Linked DNA regions of Homo sapiens: region 1 is linked to region 2. Evidence: fine-mapped expression QTL. A gene starts in region 2. The other region holds a variant in brackets. All regions are shown on one strand. Distances are between the middles of the regions.

Region 1 (9,323 bases), 63 kb before region 2:
GTCTTAATTTTTGCAGCCCAGTTCTGCCCCGAATCATAGTGCTTATATAGACATGGGAATTGACAGTTAAAAGGCACACATTTGCCTATGTTAAATGTACAAGGAAGAAAATCAGCAAAGAAGGGGATTAGAAGGAATCAAGTAGGTTGAGATTTTTTGTTGTTGTTGTTTGTGGCTGCTGCTAAGCTGAGTCTTCTCTTCTTTCTCTTCTTGTACTTTTCTCCTCAGAACGCCCTCCTTCAGTTGGTGCAGAATCCATTTTCTTTTATCTGACTCTACTCTGTAACCATTAGGCTATTTCCTAACAGGGGAGAAAGCCATCTATATCCTTTCCTGATTTCCAGTAATTAAACTGGAAAAAGACCCATTGCCCAAGGGTCCCTGAATAACAAACCTCAGAGACAACGTTATCTTCTCACTTCACCCTTGACACTCAAGGAGGGGAAGCCAGGCCTGGCCCCTCTGTCCAGGGCCTGGCCAGCACTGGTCTGCAGAAATGACCCATGGGGTTAGTACAATGCCCAAGGCCTGCCGTGTGGGTCTGTGAGCCGCCTGTGCCACTGACCAGCCTTCTCAAAGGAATCCGTTCGCTGCTGAAGGAAATCACAACTCACTGATGTCTTTTCACCTTTCCTATAAGAATCAAAAAGCAAGAATTTAGACGTTCTCTAGTTGACTAGACATTTTCCTCAGTGGCAAAGTGGTGCAAATAAATATGAATCCTAAAACATTTCAGTTTGATGGATAGTCATGGTACAGCTACTGGATTTTTGTCACTAGGAGCTGCTTTTACTGGTTCTCTCCTCTGGGATTTTAACATCCAACCGTGAATGATAAGTCATCTTTCCCCCACCACCCAAAAAGAAAATCTGAGCACTTAATGCTCACTGGGTGGGGGCAGAATATAATTAATTCATAGTTTTGCCATGCAGGGACCTACCTTGACTCTATCTCTAGGAAATAAATGAAATCCCAGGTGGTAATATGCCTGCTGCTTGAACGCTTTACTTTCTCTGCTTTCTTTGCCTAATCACCCTTGTGACCCTAACATATGACCCCCATATAAGCCCCCGAGGATTCACTAACCTAACAGTGATCTTTAGGTATTCTCTAAAAGCACACGCCAGGTTCCACTTGCTTTCAGAATCTTTTATTGTCACTTTTAAGGCTTATTTATCGAGTGTATGAAATTTTGGCCCTAGTAGCATTATTCTCCTCATACAGTTCTTTCACTCGTCTAGAAATGTTAGTGTATTTTCTGCTTACTTATATATTTTGTTAGAGTTTATCAACCTATGTATATATCTGCCTAGTTGTAAAAGTAGGAATAGGCTCTAGAGATTTTTAAAAAAGGTTGGTGAATTGGGTTGAAAAACTAATTGATAATTATGGGAGTGAAAGCATAAACAAGGTGAAAAATATAATGTTTATTGTTGAAGTTTAGTTTAATTTTTATGGTTAAGTAAAAAAATGTAGATGTAGTTGAATTATTTTGAATAACCAATGTCTGAATATGGGGAGGAGACTAATTTTAATGTGAAATAAATATAATTGATTTCCAGGCTGTACACATATATGCAATAATACATGCATGTACTGATGAATGGGTTTTTAAAAGTATCTAACTCAATTTACTCTTAATCTACTTTAAATTTCCTATTTAGTAGTAAATCTACTTTTCTCTAATGCTAACAGCTACATAAGAGCTGTGAACAAAAGGCTTTGATCCGTTCTCTGTTTTTTTTTTTTTAAAGAGTTTGAACTTAAACATGCAAATGTCTGTATCTTTTGTTGCTTATACAATTTGATTTATTCCTAATTGGTGGGGAGTTACTATGGATGTTGGTGGTTTGGGCTGTAATATGAAAAAAATGGTTACCTAACATGTGCTGTTGTTTTTTAATGTGGGCATACATTTAAAATTCTGTGGCTTTCCCTCTCCTCCCCCAACCTCAAAAAGCAAAATGCATTTAGCTTTGAGCTAAAGAAAGCTGCGGCTGGAGCAAGCATCTCCCAGCTCACACAGGCATTAACATATACGGTCATTGTCTCTGCTGCTTCCCACTGCAGCTTTATATAATAAAACAAGCCGCGTCAAATAGGCTAGGCTGTAATATTAGGTAAAATCTAATTTCAGTTTGGTTATCACATAGCGTTCATTTCCCTAAGGGAGGAGAAAAAATTAAATTTGTAAGCTTAAGATTCCAGCTGAAGTAGTAAGTATGAAAGGCTTTCCTCTGCCTTTTATTATTCACTTTATGAATTAGCCTTAGTTTACTTGTTTCGATCGGTGTCGACATATTTCTGAATACTATTAGCATAGCAATCAGGGCTGTTCTCAGGTTATTGAATAGTGTGTTGACTTCCGAAATAAATAGATATGCAGTGTGAAGGGCGAGCTGTCACTTTAGGAGAGCTTTCCTGATCTAAATTAAAAGGCACTTCTAATTGAAAACTATAATAGCAGGAGGGTTAGAGAGACAATGAAACTGCTTGGTCCCTTTCAATTTTCACGGGATTCTGTTAGTGAATGTAGAAGAAAAAGTAAAATGAAAATATTAAATTACAAATTGCAATTTAAGCAGCAATATTAAATTATACTTAAATAGCCATATTGCTCTGAAGCAATTTTAGATGCTTGATTTAAAGACTCTCAGTGCATTTGAGTTCTCACTATTATATTCTGATTTATCTGTTTTATCAGTTAACATATAATTCTATGTTTACACCAGCAAATGTGTCTTTATCTATGAAATAAGGAATCGGTCCTGAAAGACTTTTCATTTTGCACTTTGTGCTCACTAATTCAGTGTTGCATTAGTTTTTGTGTATCTTTTATCATACCTGAGGGTGTATATCAGGGATAGGGAACCTCAAAGTCAGAGCAATTTTATAAAATCTGAGGCAATCATTCATGAGTTGTCTAAGTGAAAGAGTTTCAGAAATTAATAACAGCAAATCAATTATAAATTTAAGTAATAGGTAAAATTATTAGCTATTTCAGTTTCATGACTAGCTTACCAACTGTCTGATTCTATATATTTTGGTTCTTTAAGGGTTAACAATTGGAGGCCTGTCTATAGCTCATTTCTATAGTAACAGCAAGACTGAGACTTTTTATGGGCACCTAATAATTAGAAAGTGCTAGAAGGTATAACAATATAATGAATCAAAACTGATAGACTTGTGGGTTTCCATAGAAACATGTATAATTATGATAATCGGTCCCTGGCGTACCCTCAGAATCGTATACATTCAGTTAAATGCAATAAACATTAGGCACTATTTAGTGAGCTGTGATGCAGATTAACAGTGTGAGATACAGGGAAGCTATGAATAAAATTGCTGTACAGTTTATCTCAAACTAATTTCCCAGATTGCTTTAATAGATGTAGTGTGTGGATGTGAAACATTGGAAGTGTATTTCTGTTAGTGGTAAAGCTAACAAAGATAATAATTCATAAAGTGGAGGACTGATTGTTAATTTCAGTACAGATCAAAATGGGCCATGGCACATTATTCAGCGTGGAATCCCAGAGCCCTCGGAGTAAATGGCAGATTGGGTCTCCCTTTGCTGATTTATTTTAAAAGTAAATTATAAATCTTTTTATGGTTGTCCATTTTTCTTTAACCTTTTCTTGCCCCTCTTCTACCTCCCCATTTTAGGCATAATTTTCACAGACCTGTTATGGGGAAGGAATCACGTTCTTGTTCTCCCTGACTCTCGTCTGGGAAAAGGCAATGGTTCCTTCTGGCTCCTTTGCACATCTAGTATTTATTTTACCCTCAGCTCGTAGATTTCAGATGTACTGGGCCTGAGCATCTGCAAAGGCCTAGGAAACAGCCAGAATTTCATTGTAAGGTGGGGCAAAAAATTGGGTGTCTGCATGTATATGTGTGTATGGGGGGAAGGAGATATTGTCGGGGAGGCAGTGTCAGTGTTACAGGATGTTAGATATTATTTTATTGGATTTTTCCTGTTTCCTTACTGAGGAGGTAACATATCAAGTTGGAAGATGTCAGTCTGTTCTCCGGGGCGCGGGTGGGGGCGGGAGGAAGATTAGGGGGCCAGGATAAGGTGATGTGGGGTTGGAGTTACATGAGATAAGAGATAGAGCAATGGGAGGAGAAGCTTCTAAGCTTGTGTATGGAGTGTGTGTGTGTGTGTGTTTGTGTATGTGTGCGCGCACACGCACACTTATAGGTCTGAATTATCTATCAATACTACCCTCCTCTGCCAATGCCCATGATAACCTCTCAAGCACATTTCACAAGAGAAGCGTGAGTCTCCCCTGAAGCGGGTGGGATGAGAACTGAGACATGCACGTGTGAGATCTGAGAGCCCTTAGCGATCGAGAATGTCAAGCTTCAGGATGAAATTACACAAATGTGCTGCATTATCTCTTGTACT[A/G]TCTTTAAAAAGTAAAATAAATAAAAGCTTTTGGGGGAGGAATGTTTTTCCTCACCAGCTTCAGAGCTGCTCTTAGGCCTGACAGTTGAGCTGGGCAGGCCTTTCCTTCGACTCCGCGCTGCCGCGATATTCGGATATTCGGCACAGGGGGCCTTTTAGAGTCACAAGGCGATGTACATCAAGCCTTTCTTCTCTCCTTCATGATTGTGTTACTTTCTAATACTATAATGGTGTTCTACAAAAGATTCTGGTTCCTGCCTGGCAGGAGTTGAAGTGCTGGGGGTGTGGGGGAGGGAGGTTGGCCATGTTCTCTCTACAAGCAGAACTTCTCACTCCCTGTTTCTAGTCTCCCGTTTTCCAAAGACCCATAGCTAAGGGGAGCACGCTCATAGGTTTTCATTTTGAATGACAACACAAATCTATTGAGAATTTTTTTCAGGAAATGTTTTTCATTCCTCCCTGTTTCTCTGCCTCTGTCTCTCTTTCTCTTACCTATGGCAAAAAATTACATTAATAGGATGGTAAATAAAAACATGATAGACAGCATTTCTTCTTTTAAGCTTATTTCACATGGTTTATCTAATATTTTGATCAAACTTCAGCATTCTTTTTCCCTCATAATTCATTCCAGTGACATTTGGCATATAGCATTTACCCCAGCATTTATGATATTATTCCACAATGTCTAAACATTTTTATAGCTTGTTTTATATACACATATGTGACTATGTTAATGAATTATTCAACAAATAGACGGCAAGGATCCATTTAACAAGCACATACACATATTTGCACATAACACACCTATACATTTATAACATTATATTTGCAGGTATGTACATGCATGCATGACAACTCAATTTCAGGTTATTGTATTTCACAAGACTCCTGCAGTACTTGTTATGGTAAATTATGAATATATGTAATTAGGCAATACATGGTTGTAGTATTTTATCTCCACAAAGAGCACTAATTTCTCTGGACAAAAATGAGGAATGATGCTTTTCTGCCATCTCAAGACATGCTCATGCATATATATTGGTTGAATAAGAAGCTTATTACTAAATGTTTCACAAATATTGATTAAATGTTGATTATGTTCAAGGCACTATTAATTTTGTATGGAACTGTAAACGCATATATCAGGATAACTATTCATGTACATATTATTTACAAATGGGTGTGTTGTTGTCGACTATTTTAGTAAGAAATGCTTGAAACAGCTTTAAATGAAACAAATTTATAAGCCATTTATTCTTTATTTCAACAAATATCTCTTGAACGCTCACAACGTGATAGACATATTTTTCAGTGGTGAAGATTCGGCATTGAACAAAGTTCCTGACCTCTTGTAGCTAGTGTTCTAATGGCAGAAAGTAGAGAACAAACAAGTAAATATGTATCAAGTGATGATAAACAGGGTGAAGTACGGGAAAAACATGGATAAACAAAGGGAATGCTTTGAACTTGATAATGCAGAAAATTAAGAAATGCCCAAGTCATAAAGTGTGTTTTAAAAAAGGAAAGAAAAAAGCTAACATGTGTTGAATATCTAGCAGATACCTGGTGGTGTGCTATGCTTTTCCCCACGCTTAGTGTATCATTTACTACTTATATCTGCCCTGAAAGGTGGACAGGCATTACCATTTTTATTTCACAAGGAAAGAAGCTGAAATTCAGAGCTGTAAGCCCCAGCAAGACCACACAGTTGCTATGCTTGGATTTAAACCCAGCTCTCCTAGTTCTAAAGCCCATGGCTCTTAGCAGCATTGCGCCTCTATATATTAGGAACAAAGAATAATAAGCATCGTCAGTACTGCACAGAAATATAACCAGCTTTTTTTTTTCCTTCTACAGCTCAAGAATCCTGTTTCTCTGACAGAGGAAAGGAACAACAACTTGACTGGACACATCCTAACCCAACCATACGCTGTGTTACTTCCTCCACTGCGCCACACACAGCTATTATTCTAAGCTCTCTTATTCAAACCCTTAAGGATTTGTAAGGTAGAAACTCTTCCACATGGCTGAATCTCTGCTGCTTATTTTTAGTTGAGTACTGTTGCTGTGAGGATTCTTCTATACTTTCTCTTTCACTGAATCTTTTGCCTTTAAAATGAAATTGTTTCTGTTCTATAAAACCTACAAAGACTTTAGAATGTTGTCCTTTGAAGATTCTAGTTTAATTATTTTGACTGAATTTTTAAATGATTCTGACGGAAGAAAAGGAGTTTGATTTGGTTGAATGGTCGGTATTAGAAATATTGTCCAGTAGGATTTCTACAGGGAAGACCCCAGACTTTGTCTGTTCTTCAGGTATTTGGAAAGAAGAGGCGATAGTCTTAGGCAGCATTATAGATAGAGCAGCATTTTTCTTTCAAATGGGAAGATATATGTGAATTTAAAATGGAAAAAGCAATTATACTATATACATTCTGCACATACCTATATTTGCACACAGTAATCCTCATCACTGGGGCTTAAATCAATACTGAAGACCATTTGATCATATTGTTCAATTTAACTAGTATTTTTTTGTTTACTTGATTAAAAATTATTCATTGGCTTAATCACAAAGTGCAATAAAAGGTAGAAATTGTATACTACACATTTACAGGAACACAAGCACATTCCCTTCCTTGGGGTTTTTATCTAATGAACACTAATGACCAGTTTGATGATACAGTTAAAATTAACTAATATTTTGATAGATTTGATTAAATAAATTGTTTAGGTTTGTGTCCTGATCTCCCAGATGCTTTTGAAAAGAGTAAACCTCTCTGTAATAGTAAGCCTCTCTCTCTGTTTTCCTCTCAGAAAAACATTCTTAACATGCTTTCTCATTTAAGTTTCTCATTTTAGTTTTAATTCCTTTCTAAATGAGGAAGCAAAAGAAATAGTAAGGGCATTTTGCTTTTGATTTCCTCTATTGTTTTATGAAAGCCCACTTGTCTTGTGTCTATTTATTTTTTCCATTTACAGAACTTGGAAAGAGAAAGTGACTTCAGACAGTTGCTGTGAGTAGTAATTAATTCCAGTGATCAGTGTGAGCTTGCGTATGGGCATTTATGAAATGATGTTAGATTATGAAATGCCAAGTGCCCCTCCTATTCTAGATGTGAATTTAGTGAGTGCTGTTGTACAGGAGAAAGGGGCTAATACAGACCTTTCTTTTTGGGCCAAGGGTGGCTGCTCTGCACCAAAGTTGCTATTTTTTTAGTTGTTGTTTAGCAAGTCCTACTGTTAAAAACTCAGTCAATGGCAGCCAGGCCGGTGTAGCATTGTTGGCATTGAGTTAGATCCAAGCACCAATTGAATCTCTTGGTTCTCTGATTGAAGACTAGATATGCCTATCACATACTGCTCCCAATCACATACACACAACCCTCAATGTACAACAACCTATTATTAAAAAAGTGTTAGAAAATGATCATTTACATAACTCAAATATCCTACAGTATATTGGCTAAATGATTGTATAGCTATTCAGTAGAATGTTATTTAGCCATTAACAGACATGTTATAGGAACATAATTGATGACTTGGTCAAATATACATTACGTATTGTTAAATTAAGAGTAGGTTAAGGCTGGGTATAGTGGCTCACGCCTGTAATCCCAGCACTTTGGGAGACTGAGGCAGGTGGATCATGAGGTCAGGAAATTGAGGCCATCCTGGCCAACATGGTGAAATCCCGTCTCTACTAAAAATACAAAAATTAGCCAGGCATGGTGGCACATGCCTGTAATCCCAGCTACTCGGGAGGCTGAGGCAGGAGATTCGCTTGAACCAGGGAGTCAGAAGTTGCAGTGAGCTGAGATTGCACCACTGCACTCCAGCCTGGTGACAGAGCGAGACTCCATCTCAAAAAAAAAAAAAAAAAAAAAAAAAGTCTGGACCAAAATACCCAAATATATGGATAGTAGAATTATTAGTAATTTTTCTTTTTAAAAGCTTTTCTCACATTTTCTAGTTTTCCTACAATAACTACCTACCCATTCTGTGATAAAATTGAGTTTTAAAAACAATCAAAATGTTTTCTAAGTTTTTATATTAAGTGTGCACATACATATACATACATGTGTAAGAAAAAAAGGTGAAATGCCAACAAAGTCATCTCTGGACTGTGAGATTATTATTGATTTCTTTTTGCTTCATCCTTTTCTGTAAGGTCTTAATTTTCTCCAATGTGAAAATATGACTTTTGTAATTAGAAAAAAACAATGCTTACAAAAGTAGAAAGAAAATACTATATATTCTAATAGTCAGTGTAAACAGTTTGTTCCAATAAGATCAGGATATGATGACTGGCCTAAAATATCCTAATAGAAGAGCCTATGATACTCATGCATTAAAACATGCATTACAATAAGACAACTCTGTACAGTGTCCTCATCCTTTTAGCAGTTGTGTTTGTATGAATACATATTATTCCTCATTAAAAAAACAGTGGCATAGTAACTTCATTTTCTTTAACACTGTCAGTCCTCTCTTTTTCCCTTCTGTGGGAGGCTCTGGCTCTTTTTTTTTTTTTGCATGTGCCTTTATTTCTCTTTCCCCTTTGTCATTACCATTGGTCACTTGGACTTGGCAGGAGTTTGTTTCTAAGCATAGCTGCTGATATGAGATACAGTTACTAATTTGAAGCACTACCTTATCCAAACTGAAAACTCTAGTTTCTCTTTTGTGTCATTGAAAGGTTATATGAAAATCACTCCCCTTCAACACAAAAAAAGTGAAAATTTAAAATTAGCAGACAGTGCCAATGGAAAAATGGAGAAAGAAAAATGGGCCCAATTTTAAAGAGTTTGAGCAAGCCAAAGAATAATGATTCATTGACAAATCCTTGTATTCTGAATGCGGTAAGATCATTAGTCATTTTTCGCTTTCTTCTGAGTTGGGACATACTCTT
Region 2 (9,323 bases):
CCTAGGCACTTGAGTTGGATACTCAGATGTTTTCAGCATTTTCCTCTGTTTTTAATTTATAAATGTAGTGTGATAAATTTTCCCCTCAGACTGCCATGGTTGTATTGCAGCAATTTTGACAAATTATGTTTTTAGTTTTATTCAGTTCAATGTATTATTTTTTCAATTTCTGTGGAGACTATTTTTTTTTTGACCACAGGATATTTTGGGTCGTTTAGTTTCCAGATATTTTGAGTGTTTCCTGTTATCTGTCTATGACTAGTTTCTAGTTTGATTCCACTGGGTCACAGAACACACTCTCTATGATTTCAATACTTTTAAATCTGTTGAGGCTTGTTTTATAATCCAGTATGTGTTCTATCTTTGTATATGCTTTATGGGCACTTGAAAATAATGTGTATTCTTATGTTGTTGAGTGGACTGTTTCATGAACGTTAATTAGGTCTTATTGGTTAATGGTATTTTTGACTTCGTTTGTTTCCTTGCTGATTTTCTGCCTATTTGTTCTATCAGTTGTTGAGAGAGGAATGTTGAAGTCTCCAACTATAACTGTGGATGTATTTCTCTCTCTTTTTTCTAAATTATACTTTAAGTTCTAGGGCACATGTGCACAACATGCAGGTTTGTTACATATGTATACATGTGCCATGTTGCTGTGCTGCACCCATTAACTTGTCATTTATATTAGGTATTTCTCCTAATGTTATCCCTCCCCACTCCCCCCACCCCACGACAGGTCCTGGTGTGTGATGTTCCCCACCCTGTGTCCAAGTGTTCTCATTGTTCAGTTTCTACCTATGAGTAAGAAAATGCGGTGTTTGGTTTTCTGTCCTTGAGATAGTTTGCTCAGAATGATGGTTTCCAGCTTCTTCCATGTCCTTACAAAGGACATGAACTCATCCTTTTTTATGGCTGCATAGTATTCCATAGTGTATATGTGCACCATTTTCTTAATCCAGTCTATTATCGATGGACATTTGGGTTGGTTCCAAGTCTTTGCTATTGTGAATAGTGCTGCAATAAACATATGTGTGCATGTGTCTTTATAGCAGCATGATTTATAATCCTTTGGGTATATACCCAGTAATGGGATCACTGAGTCAAATGGTACTTCTAGTTCTAGATCCTTGAGGAATTGCCACACTGTCCTCCACAATGGTTGAACTAGTTTACAGTCCCACCAACAGTGTAAAAGTGTTCCTATTTCTCAACGTCCTCTCCAGCACCTGTTGTTTCCTGACTTTTTAATGATTGCCATTCTAACTGGCATGAGATGGTATCTCATTGTGGTTTTGATTTGCATTTCTCTGATGGCCAGTGATGATGTGTGTTTTTTCATGTGTCTGTTGGCTGCATAAATGTCTTCTCTTGAAAAGTGTCTGTTCATATACTTCGCCCAATTTTTTATGCAGTTGTTTGATTTTTTCTTCTAAATTTGTTTGAGTTCATTGTAGATTCTTGATATTAGCCCTTTGTCAGATGGGTAGATTGCAAAAATTTTCTCCCATTCTGTAGGTTGCCTGTTCACTCTGATGGTAGTTTCTTTTGCTGTGCAGAAGCTCTTTAGTTTAATCAGATCCCATTTGTCAATTTTGGCTTTTGTTGCCATTGCTTTTGGTGTTTTAGTCATGAAGTCCTTGCCCGTGCCTATGTCCTGAATGGTATTGCCTAGGTTTTCTTCTAGGGTTTTTATGGTTTTAGGTCTACAATTTAAGTCTTTAATCCATCTTGAATTAATTTTTGTATAAGGTGTAAGGAAGGGGTCCAGTTTCAGCTTTCTACATATAGCTAGGCAGTTTTCCCAGCACCATTTATTAAATAGGGAATCCTTTCCCCATTGCTTGTTTTTGTCAGGTTTGTCAAAGATGAGATGGTTGTAGATGTGTGGTGTTATTTCTGAGGGCTCCGTTCTGTTGCATTGGTCTATATCTTTGTTTTGGTACCAGTACAATGCTGTTTTGGTTTCTATAGCTTTGTAGTATAGTTGGAAGTCAGGTAGCATGATGCCTCCAGTTTTGTTCTTTTGGCTTAGGATTGTCTTGGCAATTCGGGCTCTTTTTTGGTTCCATATGAACTTTAAAGTAGTTTTTTCCAATTCTGTGAAGAAAGTCACTGGTAGCTTGATGGGGATGGCATTGAATCTATAAATTACCTCGGGCAGTATGGCCATTTTCATGATATTGATTCCTCCTATCCATGAGCACAGAATGTTCTTCCATTTGTTTGTGCCCTTTTTGATTTTGTTGAGCAGTGGTTTGTAGTTCTCCTTGAAGAGGTCCTTCACATCCCTTGTAGGTTGGATTCCTAGGTATTTTATTCTCTTTGCAGCAATTGTGAATGGGAGTTCACTCATGATTTGGCTCTGTGTTTGTCTGTTATTGGTGTATAAGAATGCTTGTGATTTTTGCACATTGATTTTGTATCCTGAGACTTTGCTGAAGTTGCTTATCAGCTTAAGGAGATTTGGGGCTGAGATGATGGGGTTTTCTAAATATACAGTCATGTCATCTGCAAAGGGGGACAATTTGACTCCCTCTCTTCCTAATTGAATATTTTTTATTTCTTTCTCCTTCCTGATTGCCGTGGCCAGAACTTCCAACACTGTGTTGAATAGGAGTGGTGAGAGAGGGTATCCCTATCTTGTGCCAGTTTTCAAAGGGAATGCTTCCAATTTTTGCCCATTCAGTATGATATTGGCTGTGGGTTTGTCATAAATAGATCTTATTATTTTGAGATACATCCCATCAATACCTAGTTTATTGAGAGTTTTTAGCATGCAGGGCTGTTGAATTTTGTCAAAGGCCTTTTTTTGCATCTTTTGAGATAATCATATGGTTTTTGTCTTTGGTTCTGTTTATATGATGGATTACATTTATTGATTTGTGTATGTTGAACCAGCCTTGCATCCCAGGGATGAAGCCAACTTGATCGTGGTAGATAAGCTATTTGTGCTGATGGATTCAGTTTGCCAGTATTTTATTGAGGATTTTTGCATCGATGTTCATCAGGGATATTGGTCTAAAATTCTCTTTTTTTGTTGTGTCTCTGCCAGGCTTTGTTTTAAGTGTGTTTGTAGTTTCTCATTGAATCGTTATTACCCTGGCTGCTTTAAAATTTTGTCAGATTATTCAAATGCTTTTCATTCATTTTGAGAACCCTTTGGTTATTAGTATTATGAGTAATTTTTTGGAAAACTGAATGTTTTTGTATTTATCTTATGAGACTCTGGATCTTATTTTATTCATTTTTAGCTTCTTAATACACTCCAGCAGGGGAAGGAGAAGGCTACCTTGTTACTACCAGGTGGAGGTAGAAGCCCAGGTTCTTCACTGGCCTCCATTTACCCCTGAGTGTGTGTGTGTGGTGGGGAGATGATTTCTGGTCCTGCTGGGCTGCTGAACAGGAGCAGAAGGTTTGACTTTCCAACTGTTCTCCACTGACACCATGTTGGGAGCAATTGCAATGCAGGGTGTAGAAGTTCGGGATCCCCTATTGTCTGTACATTTGCCACTAATACCATGAAGGAAGAAAGGAGTCCTTCATCAGCTAGTGAGCATGAAAGTTCCAGCTACTTCCTTTGCCTTCTCTGACACCAACGCAGTGGGGGTTTTGGACCATTTGTCACAGCCACAGGAGGGTGGAAGTCTGAGCTTCTCATTTAGCCTTTACTATCACGGGTGGTGCTGAGGCCTCAGTTTTTGTTTATTTGGTTTTGTTTATTTGTTGTTTGCTTTTCCATGATGTTTGGCTGGAGTAGAATAATGATTATCTAAAAGTTTTCCTTCTAGAGGCCACACCTTTCTTTGTCCTTTGACTAGACAGAGTGGGATCCTGCTGGGGCTTCTTTTGTCTGGGTCTTAGGTTTCTGGATTGCTGACTATTTCAGCTCCGTGTCTGAGAAATCCCAGGGAACTCATTATTGTGTCAGTCCCATGTCCTGAGATCCCTAGCTAGCCTGTCCTTTTGTCCCCACCTTCCAGAGTCTTGTTTTACTTAACATATAATGTCCATGGTTTGTCGTTGCATTTAGCAGGATGAATAGGAAATGTACACCTATTTCATGTTTCTGGGAGTGGACTTTTCAATGATATTTTATCACCAGGATTTTAATTAGGGTCTGCATCCTGAAGCAGGAAGCACTGGTGTCAGTTCCTGGAGGCCGTAAAGAAGACCACTCTAATGAGTTTCTAAACCCAGGAGACTGCTACTCCCTTCTGGCAACACCATGCCCTTTGGGACACACTAGGACATTTTTCACATGCAAGTGCATGATCTTATTTTCGTGAATATAGTTTGTGAAGTATAAACCAGTTTTCCCCTACTTTCTTTAAAACTGTTTACTCATCCTCATTAAGAACACTAAATATAAGGTCTCTAATAGTCCAAGAAGGATTGCAGCACCTATAAGACTAGAAGATTTGAGAATACATATGGATCTTGATATGTTCACCCGTAACCACAGAAAAGTATTTTAAAAAAAATACAACTCTTCCTGGTTGGGGGGAAGCAAAAGGAACTTGAAGAGAAGCTTGAGCAATGCTGGCAAATGTTTAAAAATCAGCATTTGGGGGAGGGGGGTCGGGGGTGGGTGGAAAGCTGCAATTTGTAATGTTTTCAATTCTGTAGTATAAATACTCTTATCATGGCTGATTTCAAGCCACCAATGTGCCAGCACTCATTGTGAAGTTGGGAAGAGATGCTAACAATTGGCTTTCACAAGTCAGGCTGTGCCAGCTCCCCTGCACCACCACAAGTGACAGCAACTGATAAAATTCTTTGAGAAAGAGGCTTCCTGCCCACCGCATTCCACTGTTCAGCTTCTAGAGGAATTGTCAGTAGAACTTCTACTAAATTTGGATACCTGGGGGTAAGATAGACCAAGCCTGTTCTACTACTGGACAATGGACAATCAAACTTGTTTCTAGAACTTCTGGGAATTCTATCCTATGACGATCATGGCATGGAAAGTAAAAATGACTGTATGTGTCAGTGTCAGAGAGGCCTAAGGAACTTTCACCAAGTCTCCTACAGAACAGAGAAGAGAGGCTATGATTTCCTTATGTTCCTGAGAAAGGCAAAGCATTTGTCTGAAAGCGAAAGCCAGGAGATCAAAGTAACTTCCCTGTCACAAGAGGAAACATGAGAGCAGAATTCAGCATGAGTTTTGTATATGGCAATCAAGTATATTCATGGCTATCTAAATGAATGTCCACGTAGAAGTCAGGCAGCACAAAGAACAAGATATAACAGCTGAACGTCCCACTGAAAACCAGCTAAGTGTTGATCACAACCATCAAAAAAATTCTTGTCTTTACTTACAGTGTGACTGTAACTTTCAGAAAGTAACACATCAGTAAAATGCAGGTAATAATGGTAGCTGCTTTTACTAGTGTGAAGGAATGCTTAAGTACATAGTTCCTAAAAGACAGTAAGATTTGAAAAATACATTATACGTGTATTTAAAAGGACTTAAGTATGTCTTGCAACTCTATCTTATTACAGAATCATTTGCTTTTAGGTATATCATTCTGCCTTCAAAAAGGAAGAGGAGCAAGTATTTTCAAGGGCAGGCACTGCTTTTTTATTCTGGAACCCTAGAGATTCAGACCAGGAAACCTGTTAGGATGAGGGCTTTTAAGGAGGCAGGAAGAGAGAAGCTGTGACTTGAAAACAGATGAATCCAGAAGTCACACACACAACTGTTCATCACCTAAGCTGGATATAAGATAATTTTTTATAGTATTTCATTCTTCTTTTCATTACATTGTAGTGTCCTTAAGTAAATCCATTAGCTTGTTTGGGATTAGAGACTATTGTGCTTTTGTTGATATTAACAACAACTTATAAAATGATACATTGTATGTGAGACTCATATATGTAGACAATGTGATGCTCTTGTACACAGAGAGTTAAAGCATGCAGGTGGACAGGGGTGAATGCTGGAGAAAGCGGGGCCAGGGAAGGTAAGTTGTGAGGGAGATATAAGGTCTAATCCAAGCTCTGTGACTGTGGTGTTTGTATTTAGTGGGAATTAAGACTAAATTATGTTTTGTAAAAGAAGTGAAATCTACTTCTTAATTTTTTAGCGCATTCATTGGTGGATTGGTGTCAGGGAAACGTTGCTGGATGGTATTTTGCATACTTAGGTAGTTCTTTGCAGTTCACTACTGTCCTCAAAACCAATCATTTCTTTAAACTGTGTAAAAAACATGATTCATTTAAAGAAAAGCATACTGTTGCTTTAGGGCCTTCAGTGATGTGTACAAAATACAAATTCAACAATTAAATTATGTTAAATTAAATTAACTCTGGCAGCTGTAATTTCCCTTAAAAAGCACAGCAGAGTATTGGGCATGAGAGAATGCCACTCGAAGCCTATTATTTTTTTCCAAAGGTGTCAGTTATTTAATCTTTTGATTCTCAAAATAATTAGTTTGCTCAAATATACGTTTTCTATTATTTAAATATTTCAAATTAAATATATCTATTTGGTATAGCTATAAACTTTTTCTACTTGACATTGTCAATCTATAGTAATAACTTGTCTATTTCAACTGAATCATTAGAAAACATCAACAACATATTAGAAGCACGTAACAATAATCTAGTAACTACCAACATAAACTAATTACTGCAAAAACAATTTGTCACCATATAATAGTGATTACAGCTTGCTTAAAATATATAATTCCATACTTTCATTTTAATCTAATATTCATAGAATATTATGTGTTTCTTGCAGTCTGGAACTACTTCATTTTCTGCACCTAGCAGTAGTTGACTTATTATATTTGTCATTTGGGTTGAATTGAATGAACACATGGTGCCAGAGATGGTGATTTCTCAGTTTTAGTTCTTACCCTTCAGTTCAAGTATCATATTCATCCTTAGGATTATTCTACTTTTTTGCATGTGTATTTTTTGTCTGAATTTCTGAATTTGATTTTAGACCACAAGTAGAGGATGTAATTGACATCAAAAATTAAGGATTACCTAGAACTATCAAAGTTACATTTGGGGATGATTGGAAACAATTCTGGCTGGTATATTTGGCAAATATCTTCATTTCATTCATCAGTTTCAATATGAATAATCATATTGAAAATTGGAGTCAGGCAACCTGGGTTATGGTCGTAGTTCTGACACTAGCTTGTTTTCTAAACTTGGGAAATTCACTTAATTTCTTTTTGTTTTATTTTACTCATTTGTAAACTGTGGATATTACGACTATCTGAAGTAATTTAGTTGTGAGGTTCTAAAATGAAATATTTATATAAAAATAGTTTAAAGGGGGAAACATTTATACCTGTTTTAATTTTCAAGTATATATATAAGTTGATTAATAAAACACATGGTTAACTTTTTTAATTTGAAGCACTGAAGTTCTTTTCTTATGTAAAGATTGTCATTTATCTTCTAGAAACCTAATAATAATGTGAAATATGATTTCATGCACACAATATTTAATATCTATTATATAAAGTCTTAAAAGGTACCAATGCTCTGTTTTCATAAAAAGTAAGTTTTACCAGATATCCTAACTGAGCCAGACATTCCCTGTTCCCAGAGCTTTGCAGAAGTGAGAACTCATTAGTCTCATTAGTCTTCAAAACAAGCAGTCCTTCGATCACAAGGAATCTTGCAGGCTTTCACAGATCTCTGAGGAAGTTTTCTCACCCCTTTCCATTGCCTTAAAACTGTTTGGAACGGAGTTTAGTCTTGTGTGGAGAAAACTATTGGTAATTTTTTCTTTTAATGTTGTGTATCTATGTGACTGTGCGTGCACATTTGTGTGTTTGTGTGTGGGTCAGAGAGAAAGAGAGAGAGAAAGAATCATTGATTTAAAAAGTCGTATAACTTTCTTCTTTATATATTTTCTCTATTATGCATTCGAAATTTTGGTGGGTTGATTAAAATGGGATTTTGATCATCACAGTTATGGGGGCAAAGTATATTTTAAAGGTAGTCTAGGATTATAGTTTTAATACTGACTAGTGATTTGGGCCTGTCCTTAGGCTAAAATTCAGAACAACTTTCTGCAGATTTCTCCATTGTCCCATATGTCATTATGCTCTACTGCAACGGCTAAGGGAGAAGAATAGCTTTCCATTTTTCTGATGTATATTTTTATTTCTTTTTGGTGACTGAGCCACGAGCAGGCCTTTTGCTAATTGAGAGAAGAAAGACAATGTGCTCAGGGTAATTTTTAAAAGCTAAGAGAATTTTCTGAAGATAGAGCCCAAATTGTACAGGCTTTCAAAATAAACACCAGATGTGGTCTGGTTCATGGAATATATTGATTTGATAAGGGATCTTTTTAGGAAAAAAGAGGAAGGAATCAAATCTGGAAGCTATTGTTATGAATCTCTTTTAAGTAGTAAGAAAAAGAATTGGTGTCAAAGATTTGGTGTGGAGCCCAGGCCAGCCACTTAGCTGTGTTCCTTTTTCACTCTGAGACCGCTCTGATTAATTTTTACAAATATAAAGGGAAACCTTTGTTATATATAAGTGTGTAAAACTGTGATGATCAGATCACCTGAAAGTGGTTTTATTTAACAACATTAATGTGGGTGAGGGAATTTGGAAGAAGTTCTGGCCAGCCCTTAGTCCTGGCCTGAGGGCTGAGGAGGAAGCTGTGTTTCTTTCCTAGGCCCATTTGGGATCTCAGATCCTCACCTGGCTGAGGAGAAACACATGAACCTGGGGCACCCATAACCCACAAATCCTGGAATAAGGGCATCTCATTTAGGCTGGGATCATGTGGAACAGTGGTTCTTGGACTTTGTCATCCATCAGAATCTTCTGGAGACCTTGCTATAATATATTTTCCTAAGCCCCATTCCCAGAGATTCAGTGGTAAGTTTAGGGCCCATGAAATCTCATTTCTTCCACACTCATAGTGATGCTAGTGCTACTGGCCTGAGAATCACACTTGGAGAGACTCCCCATCCCAGAGATAGTGAGCACATGACTTCTTTGTGCCCAGAGTCTTGGTGAATCATCTTTCTCACATGGAGAAAAGCTTTTTCCCTAAAGAAAGGAAATAATGAACAAAATAAGAAAAGCAGCAAGGATTCTTTTCCTGGTCCTGCAGTAGGCATCTTAGTGTCCCTTAGTTCTGTGATCTTCACAGCGCCCTGTGAGGAAGCAAGTGCTGTCTTCGTTCATTCAGGCTGCTGTGACAAAAATACCATAAATTGATAAACAACACAAATTTGTTTCTCACTGTTCCGAAGCCTGGAAGTTCAAGATCAGCGTGCTGAGAGATTGGGTGGCTGGTGAGGGCCCACTTTCTATTTCACAGAACAGAGCCTTCTCATTGT

Direction of the effects. Alleles are on the strand shown, and positions count from the first base shown. SD is a standard deviation of normalised expression in the study named.
For the expression in sigmoid colon of the gene that starts at base 4,949 in region 2, G is the high allele of the variant in region 1 and A is the other (small effect, 0.32 SD a copy in GTEx).

The links. PIP is the estimated chance that this variant, and not a neighbour inherited with it, causes the effect. A credible set is the group of variants that fine-mapping cannot tell apart.
Region 1: its variant is the best candidate, but not a certain one, in a credible set for the expression of LINC01289 in sigmoid colon (GTEx, PIP 0.77).

Annotation. Positions count from the first base shown.
Region 1 is chr8:63,701,057-63,710,379 of GRCh38, forward strand. No RefSeq gene overlaps it. Among named protein-coding and RNA genes, the nearest start is that of LINC01289, 64 kb to the right of the region's middle. The variant A/G (reference allele first, on the strand shown) is at 4,412.
Region 2 is chr8:63,764,482-63,773,804 of GRCh38, forward strand. LINC01289 (long intergenic non-protein coding RNA 1289) reads left to right here and starts at 4,949. Exons shown (of 3, transcript NR_038875.2): 1 at 4,949-5,364.